Linked DNA regions of Homo sapiens: region 1 is linked to region 2. The links come from fine-mapping of genetic effects on gene expression. A gene starts in region 2. The other region holds a variant in brackets. All regions are shown on one strand. Distances are from middle to middle. Region 1 has its middle 15 kb from the start of NPR2. Region 2 holds the start of TMEM8B (transmembrane protein 8B).

What was found. PIP is the estimated chance that this variant, and not a neighbour inherited with it, causes the effect.
Region 1: its variant is fine-mapped to the expression of TMEM8B in whole blood (INTERVAL, PIP above 0.99).

Annotation. Positions count from the first base shown.
Region 1 is chr9:35,774,018-35,779,389 of GRCh38, forward strand. It overlaps a transcript of RGP1 not described here. Among named protein-coding and RNA genes, the nearest start is that of NPR2, 15 kb to the right of the region's middle. The variant G/A (reference allele first, on the strand shown) is at 2,405.
Region 2 is chr9:35,826,840-35,832,211 of GRCh38, forward strand. It overlaps TMEM8B (transmembrane protein 8B), which reads left to right and starts at 2,389. Exons shown (of 13, transcript NM_001042590.4): 1 at 2,389-3,116. The coding sequence starts at 2,609. It overlaps FAM221B (family with sequence similarity 221 member B), which reads right to left and starts at 1,893. Exons shown (of 7, transcript NM_001012446.4): 1 at 1,624-1,893. RefSeq lists a silencer at 2,246-2,695 and an enhancer at 2,981-3,481.

The DNA.
Region 1 (5,372 bases), 53 kb before region 2:
GTTATTTCAGTTTTATAGCCACTTTAAAAAATGTGTATTGGTGCACAAACTTTATTCTCTGATGATAAATTTCATTAAAACAGTCAAAAATTATTATAAGTTGGTTGAATGAAGTGAATGGTTAATCTGGGTTATTCCGGTTTTCGTTGAATGTACATGGGACTCTGAAGGGGTCATACCCCAGTTCTACCACTGCTGGGTCCTCAGGAGACTCAGCCTCAGCACCTTGCTCCCCCATGGCAGCAAACGCCTCCCTCCCTGAGAGACTGACTGTGCTCAGCTCTGGTCAGGGCAGGCTGCACAGGCCTTTTGCTGGATGACCCGGTAGGCAGACTAAGTGTGTGCCTTTAGGGTCCCAGCAAAGCAGTGGTACTAAATAGATTTGGAGGAAAGGATGTTGCTGTGTTTTTAAAAACATGGAAGTACTTGGCCGGGCGCGGTGGCTCACGCCTGTAATCCCAGCACTTTGGGAGGCTGAGGCGGGTGGATCACGAGGTCAGGAGATAGAGACCATCCTGGCTAACACGGTGAAACCCCGTCTCTACTAAAAATACAAAATAGCCGGGCGTGTTGGCGGGCGCCTGTAGTCCCAGCTACTGGGGAGGCTGAGGCAGGAGAGTGGCGTGAACCCGGGAGGCGGAGCTTGCAGTGAGCCGAGATTGTGCCGCTGCATTCCATCCTGGGCGACAGAGCAAGACTCTGTCTCAAAAACAAAACAAAAAAAAACATGGAAATAGTTACTATGGGGAAATTTGAATTTATTGATTTTATTTTTATTTCTTTTTTGGAGGAGGGGAGTACTATAATCTTTTCAGTGTTTTTGGTTTTTATACAGGTCAATTCCCCTCTTTGACTCATCCCAAATTTTGGTGGGGGGGGCTTCAGTCACATCCTTGTCTTTTTCAGCAGCCTCCTCCCCATATTGTCTCGAGGATTGGGAAGCAGGAAATTTATAATACCCTTTTCTCTCTGTTTTCTCCAAATTCATTTTCTCTCCTGTGTTCCTTTGGGAGAAAAGGGAAATCAGTTCTGTCTCTTCACTCCTCTATATTACTCCATCTGGATGGACCCACACTGATAGCAGTGAACCTTGAACTTGGCAGTTTTGGAGCCAGGGTCTTTGCCCTCAGTGCAGTAAATTCATTTTTTTTTGTTTAGCTGCCAGATTTAGGGTCCAAACAGGAAAACAGAACTCACTCTAAGCATTTAAACCAGAGGGCATTTAATCCAGAGAATTAGCTGGCTGTGAATATGGTGGAAGAGCTGAGAAGCCTTTCAAGGGAAGGTGAGGCAATGCAGGGGAAGATTAGCAACCGAACCTTCTATTCTCCCTAGGCTGTGGGAAGGAGGGGAAGTGCAAGGGGCAGGGTAACTTAGAAGCCGGAACTTTGGGGGCCTGTTCTAGGGAAGCTGGGGCCAAAGAGTGCCTGTCCAGATGCTGGCCAAGGCTGGGAGAGAAGGGGAAGAGATAGTCTGGCTTCTCTCGTTCAGTTTTCTGCCAGTGCCTCCCTGACTGAGCTCAGCAGGAAGCCATCTGTGGAGGGAATGGGAAGGAGCGCCACCATTTACTACACACGCTTCCACATAAGCTTGCGTTTGTCTCTTCCTAGTTAGTACACTTCTTAAGGATATTGAACTAAGTTGAACAGTTTCTCTTTTTTGGTCATATACTACTGATCAGCTCTTCTTATTAGACTTTTCAATGAAGAGATGAAAAATTTGAAAACCTTTACACAGTGTAAAAACAAGCAAACTCTTTTAAAAAAATTTTTGCTTTACTCTTCCAGAATATGGTCCCAAACTGCTGATGGTGGGATGTAGTTCAATTTTGGATATGACGGACCCCTAATAATTACCATAATAATGGACATTTATATAATGCTTTACAATATACAAGGTGCTTTTACATTTATTGTTACTGCAAATAGGTCTTAATCTGGGGATTTTGGAGCCTGTTTATTTGACCTCTAACAGGTTAGCTTAAGGCCTAGATTTGAAAGAAAAAAACAGTAATGCTCTTTTCTTGTTTTCCTCTGAATCACAGATGATAGGCAAACTTCTTTGACCTTTTTGTTAGACAGTTTAGCTACCCTCAGTAGTGGGAGGTGTTCTTAGCTGTCACTGGTGGGAGAGGCTGGCATCAAATTACTCCTCTGTTTTTCTCTCTTGGTGACCCAGCAGGTGTTTAGGACAATGACGACTACTCATGTGGAACCTTTGCAGTCATATAGATCATGCCTGTTGTTTTTGGCCTATTCTCCTTCTCCTTCTTCTTCTTTTTTTTTTTTAGATGGAGTCTTGCTGTGTCATCCAGGCTGGGGCGCAGTGGTATGATCTCGGTTCACTGCAACCTTCACCTCCTGGGTTCAATCAATTCTCCTGCCCTCAGCCTCCCGAGTAGCTG[G/A]AATTACGGGCGTCTGCACCATGCCTGGCTAATTTTTGTATTTTCAGTAGAGACAGGGTTTCATTATGTTGGCTAGGCTGGTCTTGAACTCCTAACCTCAGGTGATCTACCTCCCTCGGCCTCCCAAATTGTTGGGATTACAGGCATGAGCAACCGCATCTGGCCCCCTATTCTCATCTAAATAAATATTTTATTTCTTTATTTTCAAAGTGTCATCCTTGGCCCTCAAGGAAGAGTCTAAGTCAGCCCTACAGTTCATCTTGTCTAGTGTTTGATCAAGATTTGCTTTGTGGGCCAGGCGCGGTGGTTCACGCCTGTAATCCCAGCACTTTGGGAGGCCAAGGTGAGCAGATCATGAGGTCAGGAGATCGAGACCATCCTGGCTAACACGGTGAAACCTCGTCTCCACTAAAAATACAAAAAATTAGCCGGACGTGGTGGCGGGCGACTGTAGTCCCAGCTACTCAGGAGGCTGAGGCAGGAGAATCGCTTGAACCTGGGAGGTGGAGCGTCCAGTGAGCCGAGCTGGCACTACTGCACTCCAGCCTGGGTGACAGAGTGAGACTCTGTCTCAAAAAAAAAAAAAAAATTTGCTTTGTGGAAAATCAAAATAATTGAATTTATTCTTGGGCCAGATATACCCCAACCAATCTTAGCTTTGTTTTTATGACATTATACATGAAGTTATCTAAATCAGGTGTTTTTCTTTTTTTTTTTTTTTTTTTTGAGACAGAGTCTTGCTCTGTCACCCAGGCTGGAGTGCGGTGGCATGATCTTGGCTCACTGCAAGCTCCGCCTCCCAGGTTCACACCTTTCTCCTGCCTCAGCCTCCCCAGTAGCTGGGACTACAGGTGCCCACCACCATGCCTGGCTAATTTTTTGTATTTTTAGTAGAGATGGGGTTTCACTATGTTAGCCAGGATGGTCTCGATCTCCTGACCTCGTGATCCACCCTCCTCAGCCTCCCAAAGTGCTGGGATTACAGGCGTGAGCCACTGTGCCAGGCCTAAATCATGTTTTGTGGTTTTTTTTTTTTTTGTACTTGTTTCTTTCATTTATTTATTTTTATATATATAGAGAGAGAGATAGGGTCTTGCTATGTTGACCAGGCTGGTTTCAAACTTTGGCCTCAAATGATCCTTCCATCTTGGCCTCCCAAAGTGCTAGGATTACAGGTGTGAGCCAACGCGCCCAGCCTGGTACTTGTTTCTTGTAAGATGTTCTAGTTCTAACTCTTCTTCTTCAGACCTACTGATCTTGGATTATACTTTTTGTAATACTTTATCTTTTGGTTCCAAATGACTGGTTTTCAGAAAAGCCTTCTTAGCTCTGATGTTACCGTTCTGCCCTTTGATGTTTTTAATCTCCTTGCTACAGCTATGAGGGATTCACCATGTGTGTTTATCTATTAAAAGAAATCCCATCTTTCCCTTTGAGGTCCCATTGCCATCCTTTAAAACATTCAAGATATCAAGCACCCCATATCAATGACATATTTTTATGCTTTCTTGTTTATGATTAAGATTCATTTTTAATTAAAAATTTTGAATAGGTCATACTTGCACACCTGTTACAAAATTAAAGCTATACAAAATGGGCCAGGCGCGGTGGCTCATGCCTGTAATCCCAGCGCTTTGGGAAGCCGAGGTGGGCAGATCACCTGAGGTCGGGAGTTTGAGACCAGCCTGATCAACATGGAGAAACCCCGTCTCTACTAAAAATACAAAAAAATTGGCCGGGCGTGGTGGCGCATGCCTGTAATCCCAGCTACTCGGGAGGCTGAGGCAGGAGAATCACTTGAACCCGGGAGACAGAGGTTGCAGTGAGCCAAGATCATGCCATTGTTCTACAGCCTGGGCAACAAGAGCGAAATTCTGTGTCAAAAAAAGGTATACAAAATGATAGATAATGAAAAAACTGTCTCTTTCATCTTGCCCTTTAGATACCTTGTTCCCCTTCAGGGAGGTATTCGCTGTTAACAGTTTCCAGTCCAAAAGCTACGTTTTAAAGCATAATTAAATTTCTGGCCCCTTCTCTAAAGTCCCTCAATTATTAATCATATTAACTCTGTAGAAGGATGTATCACAACATTATACTGAAAAATAAGCTGAATATACAAAAGTGTTCAAGCAGTCAGAATACTTTGGAATATAATATGACATGTCAAACTGGTGTCTGACATGGATGGCTTCTGGGTGGATGCAAGTCCCTAAATGTCCAGCCTTCCTTTTGTGCATTGGCTTTGCCTGCCTACATACCCACTCCCTCCTCTCGAATGCACAAATAATGCACATTCGCCTTCCTGTTTGCTTTCTCTTAAGCCCAAGGCTTGTTAATCTGGGATCCTTTAGCTCCTAGATCCACGTGCACCTGAAATGATATGTAAAATGTTGTGGAATAATATGTATATGTGCTTTTTATATTTTAATGGGGAAAAGAGAGTATACATGGCTTTCATCTGATGTTCTATCTCCAGTCTATCTCTGTCTTCTTTATTCTGCCTGAACTTTCAAACTCCTGGTTCCTTCTGTCACTCAAAAGATGACTTTGCTTCCCCATTGAGGAATGCAGTTGAGCTCCTTATTTCATATAACCTTCCCTTCATTTCAATATATTATAGAGGATGTTGAGTAAGGTTTTTTTCTATTGCCCTGGAATTGGTGACTAGGGTCCAAAGCTGGGACAAAGAGGACTAAATACTGCACGTTCTAGAGAGAGTTGCTAATAATTGGATCAGAGCTCCTCTCCAGGGCTTACAAAGAGGTAGCAGAAGTGGCCCTGCAACTTCCAGCCAACCCATACCTTACCACCCCACCTCCATTCCCAGGCTATATAAGATAAAAGATGACTGAAGGGAGGCTGTCATGAGCCTAGCAGGGAGTACTTTTCCCTCCTTTCCCCCCTTAAAGTAAGCAAGGGAGTATGAAAGAGATCTACATGAAAGAGAGATTGATTTCTCATTCCTTGG
Region 2 (5,372 bases):
TCTGTTGCCCAGACTGGAGTGCAGTGGCGCAATCTCGGTTCACTGCAACCTCCGCCTCCCGGGTTCAAGTGATTCTCCTGCCTCAGCCTCCCAAGTAGCTGGAATTACAGGCGTGTGCCACCATGCCCGGCTAAGTTTTATATTTTTAGTAGAGACGGGGTTTCACCATGTTGGTCAGGCTGGTCTTGAACTCCTGACCTCAGGTGATCTGCCCTGCTTGGCCTCCCAAAGTGCTGAGATTACAGGAGTGAGCCACCGTGCTTGGCCCCTGCTGGTCATTTCTAACTGAGTGTTTCCACAGACAGCAAAACTGAACTTTGGGAATTATCCTAGTCTTTTCCTTTTCCCTTAGACTCCATCTTCAAATAGGCACCAATAACTCTATTTCCTATCTTCTAAATATTCCCCAAATGCATTCTCTCCTCTCCCTTCCAATTTTATTCAAGTTCTCATCATCTTCAGCCTTTGTGTAATAACTTTGCCCCTCTACTTCCATCCACAGCATTTTAATCCATTCACCCATTCTTTCATGGATTTATGTAACTTATACTTTTACAATGAGCCTAATCTGATGCTTTTACTGACCCGCTGTGCTAAGCTCTAGATTGAGTTGAGTCTAGGAGAGAGACCGATTAACCAACAATGGCAATACAAATAAATTGATGTTGTTCTGGGGTGAGTCTAGGATACGGTGGGGAGGGGGATATACCTAATTTATCCTGCAAGGATGTAGTCCTCCTTCCTGACCCAATCAGGATCTTTCTAAAGTGCAAGCCCAACAACTGGCACTTTGTGGCTTAAAAACATTCCATGACTCAGTCTAAAGGATTAAGTCCAAATTTCTTGGCCCTGGCATTCAAGGCCTGTCATCATTTTCAACACAGCCTGAGGATTCCTGCCTTAACTTTCCGTGCTCCCTACTTTACCCCCATGTTCCAGAGACGCTAGATATATCACTCCTTAAATGCATCAGAGCCTTTTTGAAGGGGATGTTTGGGAAGGGAATTAGGGGCAGAGGTAGGATTACAGGGAGGAAGATGACCAGAGTCAGCTAGAGAGAAAAGGGGCCTAAGAGTGGAGAACCAGAAGATGGGAGGTGAGGAAGGGGAAAGAGAAGGGGAGGAGGAAATTGGGTGGAGGAGGAGAGTAAGGATGAAAAGTACAGAATGTGGGCCAGGCATGGTGGCTCATGCCAGTAATCCCAGAATTTGGGAGGCCAAGGCGGGTGGATCACTTGAGGTCAGGAGTTCGAGACCAGCCTGGCCAACATGGTGAAACCCAGTCTCTACTAAAAATACAAAAATTAGCTGGGCATGGTGGCAGGCGCCTGTAGTCCCAGCTACTGGGGAGGCTGAAGCAAGCAAATCACTTGAACCTGGGAGGCGGAGGTTGCAGTGAGCCCAGATCGCACCACTGCACTCCAGCCTGGGGGACAGAGCGAGACTCTGTCTCAAACAACAACAACAACAACAACAACAACAACAACAACAACAACTACTACTACTACTACTACTACTACTACTACTACTACTACTACTACAACAATGTGAAGGGACTGAGGGGTGGGAGAAAGACAGATGTCTTTGAGGGAAGAGGGCAAGGGCCGTTGGAGAAACCACCTACCCTCTGGGCTTTGGCTTGGTTGTTACAAGTCCTTAGGTCAAGACCTTGACTTAGGATGGCAGGGGGAGGTGTTGATCCTCAGGGAGGAAAGGCTCTTGGTTGTGGATGTGCCTCAGCTGCAGGTGCTGAGTGTTGAAATGCCTTGCCTGAAAGTCTGCTATCTGGGAAGGGGACTTGGATATCTGCAGAACTTCGCAAAGGAGCTCTGGCATGACCTGGGGAAGTGGGTAGGGACAAGGGGTCTAGGGCCAATGAGGGAGGGTCTTGACTGAAGCCTCCGGAACCCGGGCCAGGAGAGTAGGCGCCGGTCACCAGGGCAACCGGAACGCCTAGTAGTCTCCGTGGCAACGGCGGTCTGGTCACCTCCCCGGTGGGTAAGGTCTCCTGAGGGGCTTGCATTGGGCCTCGAGGGGGCGAGCCCAGAGGGTTTACTTCTGAAAAGTGGGGTGTGTGTTGCGGGATCTCTGTGAGCGAGTGTTTGGGTAGGATCTGCGGAGATCTGTGCGTACGTCCGGGGGAGTCTGGGATTGTGAGGATAGGGTTCCTTTGAGACATCTGTGGGGCGGTCGTTGGGGGCTGTGAGGATCTGAGGGGACCTCGGGCTCTGTGCTTGGGGTGAGAAAGGCAGGGTCTCGGGTAGCTGAGGCGGGGGCGGAGTCTGTGTGTCCTCGAAGCCCAGCAGGACTAAGTTGGGGACCAATAGAGTAGGGCGGGGGCGGGCTTTACTGACAGGGACCAATCGAGCCGGCCGGGGGGCGGGGCGTCACGCCGACGTCAAGTCGAGGCCGCCGCCGCGGGGCCTGGTTATCGCCGGTTCAGCGCAGCCCGGAGTCGCCCAGGCCTGAACTCCTACCCAGGTCCCCGGCCCCCGCCCCGGGCCCGCGAGGACACCGGAGGCCACCCCCCGGGGGTGGGGAGCGGAGCCGCGGGCCAGCTCTGCGAGCGCCCCGCGCTGGCCTGTCCGGCCCCGCCCCCGCCCCGGGCCATGGCCCAGCCCTTGTCCCGGCCCCTCGTCCTATCCCAATCCCCGCCTTGGCCCCCAGCCCCGCCCTCGCCCCGCTTCCCACATCGGCCCCAGCCCCTGCCTGGGTCCCCATCCAGGACCCCCTTCCAGTCTCTGCCCCTGGCCTGGCCCCCATCCCGGCCTCGGCCCTCGTTCCACCCCCTGTCACAAATCCCAGCCCAGGCCCTGTCCCAGCCCCATTCCCAGTGTTTGCTTAAGGCCCTGGCTCAACCCCGTCCCTTGCTGCAGTCCCCATCACAGCCCTTCCTTCCATCCCACTCCCTGCCCTTGTTCAAGCCCCAGTGTCCAGCCCAGCCCAACCCATTATCTCAGCCTTTGCCCTCATCTCTGTGTTTACCCAAGTCTCTCCCTCTAGTCCCCCCTATCTCTCATACTCTGCCCCTCTCCCAGCCTAGACTCAAGTCTGGGTTTCAGCTGCCGCCAGCCCTATTGCTGCTGTTGCTGTTCTCTGTCCTTGGCCCAGGGGCTGGTGAGTGCAGAAGCAGGGAAGATTGAGGCAGGAATGGGGTTCCGGCAGGGAGGGGTGGGCTGGAGAGATTCAGGAGAGGTGGGACCTGGGGAACTAGATCATTGGGGAGCAAGTGGGAGAAATAGAGAGTAGAGAGGTCTTACACAACAGGGATTGGCAGGGTCAAAAGAGTGGTAATTAATTGGGTTTGAGGCTCAGCAGGTGGCTTACAGTTTCTAGCACAGAGACTCCAAGATTTTTTCTGGTGTCTGTCCTGACCCCACTTTGACTCTTGCTTTTCCAGGGAAATGTTGTGGGCTTTGCTCCTGCTCACAAAGTTTGATGGGGGAGAGACAGTCCCACACCAGAAGCCCCTAGTGTAGTGTGGGAATATATAGCCCAAACCTTTGAGATATTGGGCATGCATTCAAACGGCATGAAGAAGAGTTTTAAAGATAATATGTAGCAAATAGATGAATATGGATTAGTTGCCATTATAATGAGTTTTCTTCTTGTAATGATTCTTGTTCCAAAGAAGATTGATTTGCCTAGGAATAATTCCTGATACTTTTAGAGCAGGGCTGAAACTCGGAGGCTATTTTACAGATGGGGAAACTGAGGCTCAGGGAGGGAGCAATTTGTCCAAAGTCAGAGAGCTTGTGAATGGCAGTGTGCTGGGGCTAGAAAAAAGGTTTCCTAATTCCTATTTCATACTAGTGTGTTTTTTTTTATCCACTGCAATGTATACTTAATAGAAAAATAGACCCAAGTGGGGAAAGGCTCAAAGCATAACCTCCCTTCTCCCCGGTCTGCCCACAAGGGTGCTTTATCCACAAACTGTTCCTTATTTGCCAGGCGTCAGCCAAGGGCCACCCTCCGGTGGGGAAGTGACTTGGACAGAAGAGAGAGAGGTCCAATTTTTTAATGGTTGGAATGTGGGAGGAGGAGGGGGTGTCCTGGTCTAGGGGATGTGCCATGAAGATGGCTCCATCATGGAGTGACTGTAGTCTTCATGGCCCAAGTCTGTAGCCACCTCTGGTGGGTGTCACTCTAGATAGGATGGAGATGTGCCTGATGGAGTCTTTGGAAATAACAGCCAACAGAACAGCTGGGGGGTGGAGAATGGGTATCAGTGAGCTCTGGGGGCCTGGTTCAGTGTACAAACTTAAGGAGACGAATGCACGTGAAAGGTCACAACCCCTGCAGAGATGTCTGGTCACTTATGTGTATGTGTGTAACTGAGGGATTGTGGGGAGGCTGGCAGCATGTGTACATGCTTGTGTGTTGTTAAGTGTAGACACGTGCATGTGTGTGGGGTGCATGTGAGCCAGTGTATCTTCTGAGCGCCTGTGTTATGGTATGAAGGGGAGGGGACATGTTGTGGCCCATGTACATTCCTCTTCAGCTCTGCCTCCTCCTCATATGGACAGATCACTGAAGCTGTGAATGGGGCTGGAGACCCTTTCTCAGCAGTTCCAAGGGTGAGGGCAGTGTTGCATGCCTCCCATAACGAATATAAGTTATCCATCCATCCCCAGCCAGTGCCTTTGAAGGAAGGAGCTGTGGAGGCACTCTGTGTTGATTACTGCTGCTGGCAAATTGGACACTGGGCAGAGGCAGTAGCCAGTCAGGTTTTCAGTTTTGGTAAGGGGAAGTTTATGCTGTTGGGCCAAGTTCCTAGCTTCCATCCTCTGCCATCATGGCTTCTTCATGTGCCCATTGAGCAAGCATTGGGCTGGTGAGGGGAGCAGGGTGACCGACAGCCACAGAGCATATACAGCTGAAAGTTGTGGATAAAAACACTGTTGCCCAGAAGCAGGTTCAGGTGCTTTGGGGAGAATTGTAATGAAGTTGGAAAAGAGTACCAATACACCCAAATGGAGGCAGGGCTGCCTTTAGTGCTGTTAATAATGAATGCCTTGGCAATTTTGGACCAAAGTACAGGGTGCTCTGTGACCTAATGGTGGTGATGGGTTTTGTCTGAGGAGAGGCTGGCAGTGTCATAGGACCATCATGGCACAGGGCTGCACAGTGCTTATTGGTTGCTTCGGTTTCATTTCAGGAATGGAAGTTATCTCTTGGGTCTAGTGGTCCCACTCCTGATCCTTGGATCTTTTCCTTGGGCTTAGTTGAGGACTCACACGTGCCTTGCTATTCAAAAAAAAATGGGCTTTTATTCTACCTAGTGCTATTACTAGCAGGGCCAGCCTCAGCCTATGTGTGTAGGTGTAGGGGTGTGTGTGTGTGTGTGTGTGTGTGTGTGTGTATGTGTATGTG